Homo sapiens: one gene and its partners. The protein of the gene in region 1 interacts with the protein of each later gene in a biochemical or structural test. Each region holds a gene or a part of one and is shown in the gene's direction. Other genes may lie near its edges.

Region 1 (3,751 bases):
CAGTGGCTCTGGCTTGGGGCCCAAGAATTTGCATTTACTATTTTTTAAGAGACAGAGTCTCGCTCTTTTGCCTAGGCTGGAGTGCAGTGGTGCGAACAGAACTCATTGCAGCCTCGAACTCCTGGGCTCAAGTGATCCTCCTACCTTAGCCTCTTGAGGAGTTAGGACTGTAGGCATGTGCCACTAAGCCAGGCTAATTAAAACAATTTTTTTTTTTTTGTAGAGACAGGATATTGATATGTTGTCCAGGCTGATCTTGAACTCCTGGCCTCAAGCAATCCTCCTACCTCAGCCTCCCAAATTGCTGGGATTACAGGAGTAAGCTACAGTGCCTGACCAATAATTTGCATTTCTTAGGGGTTCTCTGGTGATGTCACTGCAGCTGGCTTGGGCACCAGACTTTGAGAACGACTATTTTAGCCAAACTCAGTTCCTGTAGGTAGACACTCCAGATATTTTTAAAAGACTTGGCAAGCATTTTTTTTTTTTTTTGAGACAGGGTCTCATTTTGTTGCTGAGGCTGGAGTGCAGTGGCAAGAACACAGCTCACTGCAGCCTCATCCTCCTGGGCTCAAGCAATTCTTCTGCCTCACCTCCCAAGTAGCTGGGACTACAGGTGTGTGCCACTAGGCCTGGCTAGTTTTTTCTTTTTTTTTTTTTTTGTAATTTTGTAGAGATGGGGTTTCCCCATGTTGCCCATGCTAGTTTCTAACGCTTGAGATCAAGTGGTTCCTGCACCTTGGCCTCCCAAATTGCTGGGATTCCAGGCATGAGCCACCATGCGCCCAGCCCTTGGCAAGCATTTTTTTTTTTCTGATTCCCTATTTGGTTTTTGTGTTTTTTCCTTTATGGAAATATAATTTACCTGCAGTAAATCTCTTTTTTCCCTGCAGTAAATCTTAAATGTGCAGTTAGATCTATTTTGACAAATGCATACATGTGTTACCATTGTTCAAATCAAGATAAAGAATTTCCCTTTCTCCAGAAAATTCCTTCATGCTCCTTATTAGTCAGTCCCCGCCCCCACGACCGCTCATGCTGGTTTCTATCACTATAGATTCATTTTGCCTGCTGACTCCTTCTGTTTTTCAAATTAAAACATCCTTTTATTTGTCTGGGTCAAATTCATGCACATGAATGTTATTATTTTGAAAATGTCATTGTGTTGTGCCTTAAAAGAAATTAAATCTGAAAACTTTCTTTTGCAGAAGAGGAAAAGAAATCCAAGAAACCTCGTAAGTTATGCATTTCTGCAACTGTTCGTTTCTTGAGACTGCCCGAGCACAGAACTAAATGCTGGTAGTGAGAGTCGACCTCTCTCATCAGGGTTCTGTGATGGGTTCTATATGATTCCATTCTGTAATGGCAGCAGGCCTGAGGCTGGAGGGGAGGACAAGCATAAGTGAGATGAATAAGGTGACTTTAGCCTTGTCTGTTTTCCCCTGTGTTGTCCTGCTGTTCAGGCGTGTGTTTGTAGAAGTGGCTCTTAATCAGTGTGGAAGGGAGTAGAGGCCATCCCGTTGCTCTGTATCATATTTCCCTTTCCTTACCCCCAGCCCCTGTCCCTGCCTTACCCAGCAAGCTTCCCACGTTTGGAGCCCCGGAACAGTTAGTGGATTTAAAACAAGCTGGCTTGGAGGGTAAGTTATCATGGGCAAGGAGCTTTGGGGTGTCCACTCTGAGTTTGTTCTGCAAATCACTCTCTGTTTCCTCTCCCAGCTGCAGCCAAAGCCACCAGCTCACATCCGAACTCAACATCTCTCAAGGCCAAGGTGCTGGAGACCTTCCTGGCCAAGTCCAGACCTGAGCTCCTGGAGTGTGAGTAGCTTCGGGGCTGGTGCGCGGTTCCACTGGTTCTGTCTCTCCTGCGCCGCTCTGTGCAGCTCTCTGTGAGGCCAGCTGGCCGGCTATATCAGCCACTCCCCTTCACTTGTCCTCTACTTTGTTGCTCCCTTATTTTCTCCCAGTCATCAGTGCCTTTCTTTACTTTTCCTAACTAGCTCAGATTTCACAATCGGTCCTTTGACTCTCCCTCTTGCCGTCTAGTCTGGCCCAATTGAGCTCACCTTTCTCTGTGGGTCGGCGCCTGCATGTCCTCTGCAGAGAAGGCAGGGCGATTGCGGTCACCGGCCTTCACCGGGCGTCCCGTTGCCGGCATGCCTGCCCTGCATCTCCTGTCTCCTCCCCACCACTCTCCAGAGCCACCATTCCCAAGACTTCCCACTGGCCATAGCTCCATCCTTCTCCCTGTCCCGCCCACCTTCTGCTTCACGAAAAAGACAGACACTGTAGAAGGGGCTCCCCCTGCTCTGTTATTGACATCGCATCTGCATCTACTGTGCCCCCTTCCTCGCCTCCTGGCCCCTTTCCCAAGACCCCCTGGCCCTGGGCTCTGGAGTCTGCTCCCCACACGCTCTCTGGAATCTTCTGCTCTCTCTTAGGCCTTTCCATTCCCATCTCTTCACCCTCAGCATCTCTACCTAGGCTTGCCTATCTGTAGCACGTTTACATCTCTCCAAATCACAAAAACAAACCTAGCAAAACTGTCTCAGCTGCAGCTCTGTTTCCTGCCTCCCTTTCACCCGAATGCTTGTTAAAAATACAAATTACTAGCTGGGTGCGGTGGCTCATGCCTGTAATCCCAGCACTTTGGGAGCCCGAGGCAGGTGGATCACCTGAGGTCAGGAGTTCAAGACCAGCCTGGCCAACATGGCAAAACCCCATCTCTACTAAAAATACAAAAAATTAGCCGGGCGTGGTGGCACATGCCTATAATCCCAGCTACTTGGGAGGCTGAGGCACGAGAATCACTTGAACTTGGGAGGTGGAGGTTGCAGTGAGCCGAGATTGTGCCACTGCACTCCAGTCTGGGCAACAGAGCGAGACTCTGTCTTAAAAAACAAACAAACAAACAAAAAACCCCAAAAACCAAATTCCTGGGCCCTGTTCTAGCCCTACAAGATCAGACTCAGGCAAGCACGGAAAGCTGTATGTTTAGCTCATTTCCTCCATGATCCTTTTGAGGACAGTTGGGGAAAAGCAGCTCTGCAGATTTTCTACATTGGTGGCTCTCAACTGTGGCTGCGTGTTGGAATCCTGGGGAGCTTTTTAAAATCCCCGATGCCCAGGCTGTCCCCCAGACTGGTTCATTCAGAATGTTGGTGTTTGGCTGCCCAGGGTTGCAATGTGGGGCCGAGGTGGGAGCCTGAAGTCTAATCCTCGTGCCACTGCATTCTGACCTCTGTCCTGCCCTTGACCCAGGCAGCTCTGAGGTCATCAGGGTACTCCGTGTCACAAAATCCAGGGACGCCTTTCAGCTTTTATTTAGCTTCACCTGTCAGTGGCATTCCTCCTCCTTCTGACACTCTCTCCCCTTGCCGCTTGAGCTGCTATACCCCCCTGGGTTTCCATCCACCCCTCCTTTGCAAGCTCGTCCAACCTGGAAGTGGGTGGAGTTCCGTTGTCAAGGCCAGGCCTAGGGCCCTCCCACTTTCCGTCTTCTTGTTTCTTCTGCACCCACGTGCAACACTCCAGGCAGCACCTGCCAGTGGTACCCACTTCCATGTGGAGGCCAAAGCCAATCACTGAAAAATATAGCCCTTCCTTTATCATAAGCAGCTGCAGCAGGCTTGGTGGGGATCTGTGGGTCCCTTGCTTTTTCAGGGCTGGCCTTCTTGTAGCCCTCCGCTGTCCCTGCCCCCCAAGAGAGGCCCAGACCAGCCCTGGGCTGCAGCTAACTCTTGCCCAAGCT
Region 2 (3,751 bases), on another chromosome or scaffold:
TTTCAGATATTCTTTCCCATTGTGAGACCAAGTGCTTTGATTTTTGGTTTAAACATTAAGATCAGCATACATGCATCCTTTTTTGTTTCATAGATTCTTTATCTGATGTCACAAGTACCACATCTTCTAGGGTGGATGATCATGACTCAGAGGAAATTTGTCTTGACCATCTGTGTAAGGGTTGTCCGCTTAATGGTGAGTAACCTAAGGACTTTTCTGTAAGCTTCCACCTTTTGGCCATTGTAAATAACACTGCTATGAACATGGGTGTGCAAATGCCTTCTGAAAACCCTGCTTTCAATTCTTTTGGATATATACCCAGAAGTGGAGTTGGGGGATCATATAGTACTTCTATGTTTAATTTTTTTTTTTGAGGAACTATTATTCATAGTGGCTATACCATTTTTCTTTCCCACCAGCAATGCACAAGCGTTCAAATTTCTCCACATCCTCACCAACACTTGTTCTTTTTGTGTGTGTTTGTTTGCCTTTTTTGTTTGTTTGTTTTGAGACGGAGTCTCACTCTGTCACCCAGGATGGAGTGCAGTGGTGTAATCTCAGCTCACTGCAACCTCTGCCCCCTGGGTTCAAGTGATTCTCCTGCCTCAGCCTCCCAGGTAGCTGGGGTTACAGGCGTGTGCCACCCCGTCCGGCTAATTTTTGTATTTTTAGTAGAGACGGAGTTTTTGCATGTTGGCCAGGCTGGTCTTGAACTCCTGACCTCAAGTGATCCACCCGCCTCGGCCTTCCAAAGTGCTGGGATTACAGGCATGAGCCACTGTGCCCAGCCACTGTTTGTCTTTGATAGCAGCCATTCTAACAAGTGTGAGGTGTGGACTATAATGAGTGGTTGTGTACTTTTCAGTCAGCCAAGTCTCAAGTAGGGCCACTCTATGGGTGTCCCTGCAGTGTCTAAACCTGTCTTTTTTGTTTGTTTTGAAGTTGTCACACATCTTCATTTTGAATATTTCAAAACAATTTAAACATAATATAAGGCAAATTTTGAAAAACAGAACTATCTTCTGTCTTCCTGTACTGTAGCTTATAACATCAATTCATTCTTCAGCCGGCATTCCTGCAATGGCTGTCTTTTGTATGCCTAGCCCTGTGCCAAATATGTAAGGGGGATGTAAGCTAAACCATAGTGCAGCCTTCTCTTTAGTAAGTTTATAATTAAGGTAGGGCATGAAAACATCCATAAAATGCCAGGCATGGTGGCTTACGCCTGTAATCCCAGAACTTTGGGAGGCTGAGGCAGGTGGATCACTTGAGGCCAGGAGTTCAAGACCAGTCTGGCCATCATGGTGACAACCCATCTCTACTAAAAATACAAAAATTAGCTGGGCGTGGTGGCACATGCCTGTAATCCCAGCTACTAGGGAGACTGAGGCAGGAGAATTTCTTGAACCCGGGAGGTGGAGGTTGCAGTGAGCCAAGACTGCGCCATTGCACTCCAGCCTGGGCGACAGAGTGAGTGAGATTCTGCCTCAAAACAAAAACAAAAACAAACAAAAAATTTGCAAATGGGAAAACTGCGTGAAGTAAGTAAAAACATATAAAAAATTAACCCCCAACTGACTATTGGGTACTGGCTAAAGGAATGCAAAAAATACAAGTCAGATGGGGATGGAGTGAGATTCGTTAAGAGAATCTTTCTGGAAGAGATGAACTGTAGGCCAGGGCTTCAAGGAAATAAAGGCTGTTGCCTCTGCTGGAGAGCATTTTGGCTTCATACACTTGGGGGGGTGCAGAAAGGGTAACTAAATTTCTGGTTACCTCGAATTTCTATCTGGGTGGAGTGACTTTGGGGGCAGTGGGGAATTTTTGTTTCCTTTTCTTTTTCTTTTTTTTTTTTGAGACAGAATTTCACTCTGTCACCCAGGCTGGAGTGCAGTGGGGTGATCTCGGCTCACCGCAACCTCCACCTCCCAGATTCAAGTGATTCTCCTGCCTCAGTCTCCCGAGAAGCTGGGATTACAGGCACCCACTACCATGCCTGGCTAATTTTTGTATTTTTAGTAGAGACAGGATTTCACCATGTTGGCTAGGCTGGTTGTGAACTCCTGGCCTCAAATGATCCGCCTGTTTCGGCCTCCCAGAGTGGTGGGATTACAGATGTGAGCCACCACACTCTGCCTGAATTTTTGTTTTCTGATGAGTCTCCAAGGTAATGAAGGAACCTGGATAATGGACACACAGCAGTGTCAGCTGGTATAGATGGAACCTGTCTGGCAGGGGGCAGGGCAGGCATGGATGGGGAAAGCTGGCAGTGAACTTGACTGAATTGGTTAGAATCCCTGCTCAACAGTCCCTCAGACCCCTTCTTTGTCTTTGTAGGTAGCTGCAGCAAAGTCCACTTCCATCTGCCTTACCGGTGGCAGATGCTTATTGGTAAAACCTGGACGGACTTTGAGCACATGGAGACGATCGAGAAAGGCTACTGTAACCCCGGAATCCACCTGTAAGTTGGTGGCTGTACTCTGGCTTTCAAGAGTCCAACATTATCAAAGGGAAGCATTAGTGCTAGGCTCAGGGGAAAAAGAAAAAAACACTTTTCCATCAGAATCCCATTCGAGTGTGAAATACCTCTTGAGATAAAAAATGGCAAATGCCTGCCGAGTTAATGAAGGAAAACCACAGCTGGGTGGGTTTGAGGTCACACTGAGCCTGGCTAATACCAGAGATCCTGGGAATGTTTGCTAACTCAAATGAAACAAACAGTGACATGATTATTTGTTTAGTTGACAGTTGTCTGTGTCCTGCAAAAAAACACAGTTCAGTGTCCGGCTCGTATCCTGATCAGTTCATCACAGAACTATTAAAAGTACTAAATGATTTAGGACAAAAGAGCCTTTGGCTTAACTTCATAATTTAAAAACACGGTTTGAATAATTTCATATAGTTTTACTGTAGAATTTTGTTGTATACTTTAGCATTTAATACCTCCCTTATGTTTGCTATTTTCTCTAGCAAGGCATCTAAGAGGGTACCTTACATTTCTGCTTCTGGCCGAGCGTGGTTGCTCATGCTTGTAATCCTAGCACTTTGGGAGGCTGAGGCAGGAGGATCACTTGAGCTCAGGAGTTCGAGATCAGCCTGGGCAACATGATGAAACCCTGTCTCTACCAACAATACAAAAACTAGCCAGGCATGGTAGCACGCACCTGTGGTCCCAGCTACTCGCTACTCGGGAGGCTGATGTGAGAGGATCACTGGAGCCCAAGAAGTTGAGGCTGCAATGAGCCGTGATTGTGCTACCACACTCCAGCCTGGGTGACAGAGTGAGACCCTGTCTCAAAAATAAATAAGTAAAAACATTTCTCCTTCTGGAAGAGCTGAAATGGGTGATACCCATATGACCGTATTTATCTATGGTGTGCAGGGATATAAGAAACATCCCAGTTTTATAAGGAAATTCTTAAGGGGGAAAAGTTACATTACTTTTCATCATATGAGAATTTAGTGATTTGAGGGTGGAGATTCTGTGTTGCTGGATTTTTACCACTAGAGGGCGACATGAGCTACTTTCTGGTTGCTAGGTCTATATTTCCGCTCCCAGGCAAGTGGAGAGCCGGGTTTCTCAACCTCAGCACTACTGACGTTTTGGGCCAGATTCTGTTTAGCACTATTCCTAGCCTCAATCCACAGATGACAGGAAGCACCACCCCCCCACCAGCCCCACTGGTTGTCCTAACCCAAAATGTCTTCAGATGTTGTAAAATACCCACTGAGGTCAAAATCGTTCCTGATT
Region 3 (3,751 bases), on another chromosome or scaffold:
TGAACTTGCAGATTCTCATAAGTAACTTACAGTTGTGTACATAATGAAGAATTGACTTGCTTTATTAGTGATCCCAAAAAAGGAGCCCGTTTGTTTTATCTTACAAATTTTTCATAATTTTTTTCTTTATTTAAATTTTTTTTCTATAACACACAACTTTGTCCAGAACCCTGTTTGTTAATATTTTAGAATCGCTTAAAGATGTAGTGACAGGTTGGAGTTTACAGAGTAGGTATCATTGAAGCATCACTCAGTTTTTTAACACTTATTTTTCAGTAATGAAATTGGCAGTTACTGAGTTATCAGACAGCTCTTGTTTGAGATGAGCTAAAAGATCTACAGTTGATATTACTGGTCATATATTGCAATTTTGTGTTTCAGAGAATATTCTAAAAAACCTAATCACTGTAGACAGGATGCACTGGGATATAGATAGTTACTAACTGGACCAACTTTTCTCACACACAAATTAGCACTTTTTCTAAGAATACTGTTTATTACCCCAAAATTTTACTGTACATACTCCAATCATTGCCTTGCAGAAGAGCATCTAAGACCTGTCATTGCTTCGTACTGAGCACAAATTATTTTTCAACTTAAAAATAAGAGTCCTGGTTAATAGAGATAGGTTGACAGAATGTCAGTTGTTATAATTGACTAACTACAGTATAGTTTACAGTAGTGTGAGTCTAGGGTTTGCTCTTCAAGACCCAGTAGATCTGTTGATAATTAGATCAATTTGATGTGATATTTGATTCCTTTTAAAAATATTTGTAGCATTAACTATTGTATGCGTTCTATAAGATGAGATACCTTCCTTTAGACTTAATTTTGTGGACATTTAAATCCATACCCTATTCCTTTACCAACTTACCTGTCTATTTTAGTAACTAACTTCCTGAACATAGTCTACATTAACTAATTTCCTGAACATAGTCTACAGTGCTTTCTATTATGCATGGCCCTAAACTCACTTCTGTTTGGGATTCAATCCTTGGACTGCTTTTAAACATAATAGAATCACAAAATTCATTTAAGGGTTATTCTGTTTTTCTGTAAACAACTATGGCCTTCCTATGTGATCTCATTTGTCAACTTTTTTTTTTTTTTTTTTTTGGTAGTGATGGGGTCTCACTATGCTTGCCCAGCTTGGTCTGGAACTCCTAGCCTCAAGTGATTCCCCTGCCTGCCTCAGCCTCCCAAAGTGCAGGGATTACAGGTGTGAACCATGGCATCCCACCTGCAATGTAAATTATTTGTGCCAAAAGATAGATAAGGCCGGGCGTGGTGCCTCACGCTTACAATCCCAGCACTTTGGGAGGCTGAGGCGGGCAGATCACTTTAAGTCAGGAGTTCGAGACCTGCCTGGCTAACATGGTGAAACCCTGTCTCTGCTAAAAATACAAAAATTAGCCAGGTGCTCACTTGGACCCAGGAGGCAGAGGTTGCAGTGAGCCAAGATCGTGCCACTGCACTGCAGCCTGGGCAAGAGAGCGAGACTTGTCTCAAAAAAAAAAAAAAAGATAGATAAGTGAAACAGTAGGAATTTTAGCCCTTTACTTCTTCACTTAAAGAAATCATACTGTACTCTGTCTTTCCACCAAAGAATAGTGTAAAACCAGAAGGTATTTTAGTTAGTCATGTGTTGAATAGTGGCCGGAAAGATTTTATTTCCTAGCCAGTTTTTGCCTTTTTAGGAAAAAAGTTGACATCAGTTTCTGTGGTTGAGACTTTTTCAGATGCTGCCATTTCAGACTTGTTTCATTTAGTTTGGATTTTATTCCTTTTTTCCCCTCCCACAGTTTATGCTGTGGGTTTGTTAGGGAAACCAACAGTTTAGTGAAATAATTATGCATGTTTTTGTGTCAGTCCATTAGAACTTGAGAGCAGCATATATTATAAGGACTATTTCAAAATGTTTTCTACACACGAAAGCTTATTTTAGAATGTGTTCCAATTAAATCTAGGCTTGATCAGGTCACATGATGTGCTTAATATGTACATTCTTTACAAAGAATATCTGATTTTGAGGGTGAACTGAAGATGAGAAAGTAAATGCCATACCTATCTCTGCCACTGTGTATTGAGAGTGATTTTGAAGCTATTTTGGGATACGCTTTTGGAGGCCTTTCTGTAGCTTTTTATAGTAGATACAGAGCTGCTACTACTTTGTGTAACTGGTGAGTGGTGGATTGGGACTCTTGGGCCCTGGCTTTCTTTTTTTTCCAGTCACCCAATTTATGGCTTTCTAAAAACATGAAGACCTGGGGTAAAATTAAAGGATGGAGGTGAGGAGAGCCCAGAATTCAAGGAATTTTACCATCCAGTTATTTTCTCATTTTTCTACTCCTGCTATTCATCCCTAATATCTTAACTTTTTTCCTAAAAAATGAAGACCAGCCTCTTTTGTTCTGGTCACATGTTAAAGGACTTCCCAAGGTCAGAGGCTTCATTATTGCCTCTTGAGCTTTTTAATACTCTAAAAATGTTTTAGTTTGAACCTAAAGAACATGTCAGTTTCTCACTTGCTCTTACATCGCCATGATCAAAACAAAAAACTAGTCTTAAAATACCAGAGACATTACCTAAAATGGCCATGGGTTTAATTAACACATTTTGGGGAAGCATTTGATTTGTATTTACATCTTATGACTATTTCAGTATATTACTGTGCTGAGAGAGAAGTTATTTGTTGTTGTTGTTTTTAACGTATGCCCTGTAGCTTGTGGAATGAAACAGTTTATGATGTATTTTTTTTTAGGTGAAGGCAGTGTAAATAAAATGTTCTCATTTATTGTTTTTCATACCTAAAAGCTTATTTAAATATGAACATTTTTCTGGTTAAAAATAAATATAAGTAGAAGTTAGACTATTTTTCCCCATACCTGAGTGGCTCCTTTTGTTTTCCTTCCATAATGTGCACATCCTGCCTTGAAAATAACCCTGCCTTAATGATGTTAACGATGAAATTCTGATCGTTTATTTCCCTCTTTTCATAACATCAAATAGATTCAGAATTCAGTAAATATTAATTGAATATCTATTGTGCCAGGCAGTGTTCCAAATGCTGAGGATATAGCAGTCCATAAAATAGACTCAAATCCATCCTCTCATGGAGCTTAAATTCTGAACAAAATAAGTAGAAATGAGATTTGTTAGTAGTGCTGTGGAGATAAAGCCAGGGAGTGGGGATAGGGAGTGTGCAGGGTAGGGTTGAATGGGGTTTGCAATTTCAGTTATGATGGCTTCACTGAGAAAACATGAAGATCTTAGGAGCTGAGGGAGCAAGCCATATGGATATCTTGGGGAGGAAGAGGAAGTACAAAGCCCTTGAGGTGAGCGGATGCCTGGCACGTTGAAGAACTACAAGGAAGCTAATTTTTGTCTGGAACAGAGAAGGTTAGGGGATGGAGAGAGAACAGCTGAAGATAAGTCAGAGAGGTAGGTGGAGTGAGGGCATCATATAGAGCGTCTTTTGGGGGCCCATTACAAGGACTATGACTTTTTTTTTTTTTTTTTTTTTTTGAGACGGAGCTTCGCTCTTTTGCCTAGGCTGGAGAGCAATGGCATGATCGGGGCTCACCGCAACCTCCACCTCCGGGGTTCAAGCGATTCTCCTGCCTCAGCCTCCCAAGTAGCTGGGATTACAGGCATGCGCCACCATGCCTAGCTAATTTTATATTTTTAGTAGAGGTGGGATTTCTCCATGTTGATCAGGCTGGTCTCGAACTCCTGACCTGAGCCGATCCAC

Evidence for each region.
Region 2: of the proteins of TRIM25 (region 1) and ZC3HAV1, one has a biochemical effect on the other in vitro, tested with the Homo sapiens proteins (2 studies listed by BioGRID).
Region 3: the proteins of TRIM25 (region 1) and UBE2N form a complex in vitro, tested with the Homo sapiens proteins (3 studies listed by BioGRID, with this or other methods).

The regions. Positions count from the first base shown.
Region 1 is NC_000017.11:56,893,410-56,897,160, reverse strand, and holds part of TRIM25 (E3 ubiquitin/ISG15 ligase TRIM25), read left to right. Parts: intron 1-1,208; coding exon 1,209-1,235; intron 1,236-1,556; coding exon 1,557-1,640; intron 1,641-1,719; coding exon 1,720-1,818; intron 1,819-3,751.
Region 2 is NC_000007.14:139,074,996-139,078,746, reverse strand, and holds part of ZC3HAV1 (zinc finger CCCH-type antiviral protein 1), read left to right. Parts: intron 1-93; coding exon 94-195; intron 196-2,337; coding exon 2,338-2,461; intron 2,462-3,751.
Region 3 is NC_000012.12:93,414,223-93,417,973, reverse strand, and holds part of UBE2N (ubiquitin-conjugating enzyme E2 N), read left to right. Parts: intron 1-3,751. UniProt on the Homo sapiens protein: The UBE2V1-UBE2N and UBE2V2-UBE2N heterodimers catalyze the synthesis of non-canonical 'Lys-63'-linked polyubiquitin chains. This type of polyubiquitination does not lead to protein degradation by the proteasome.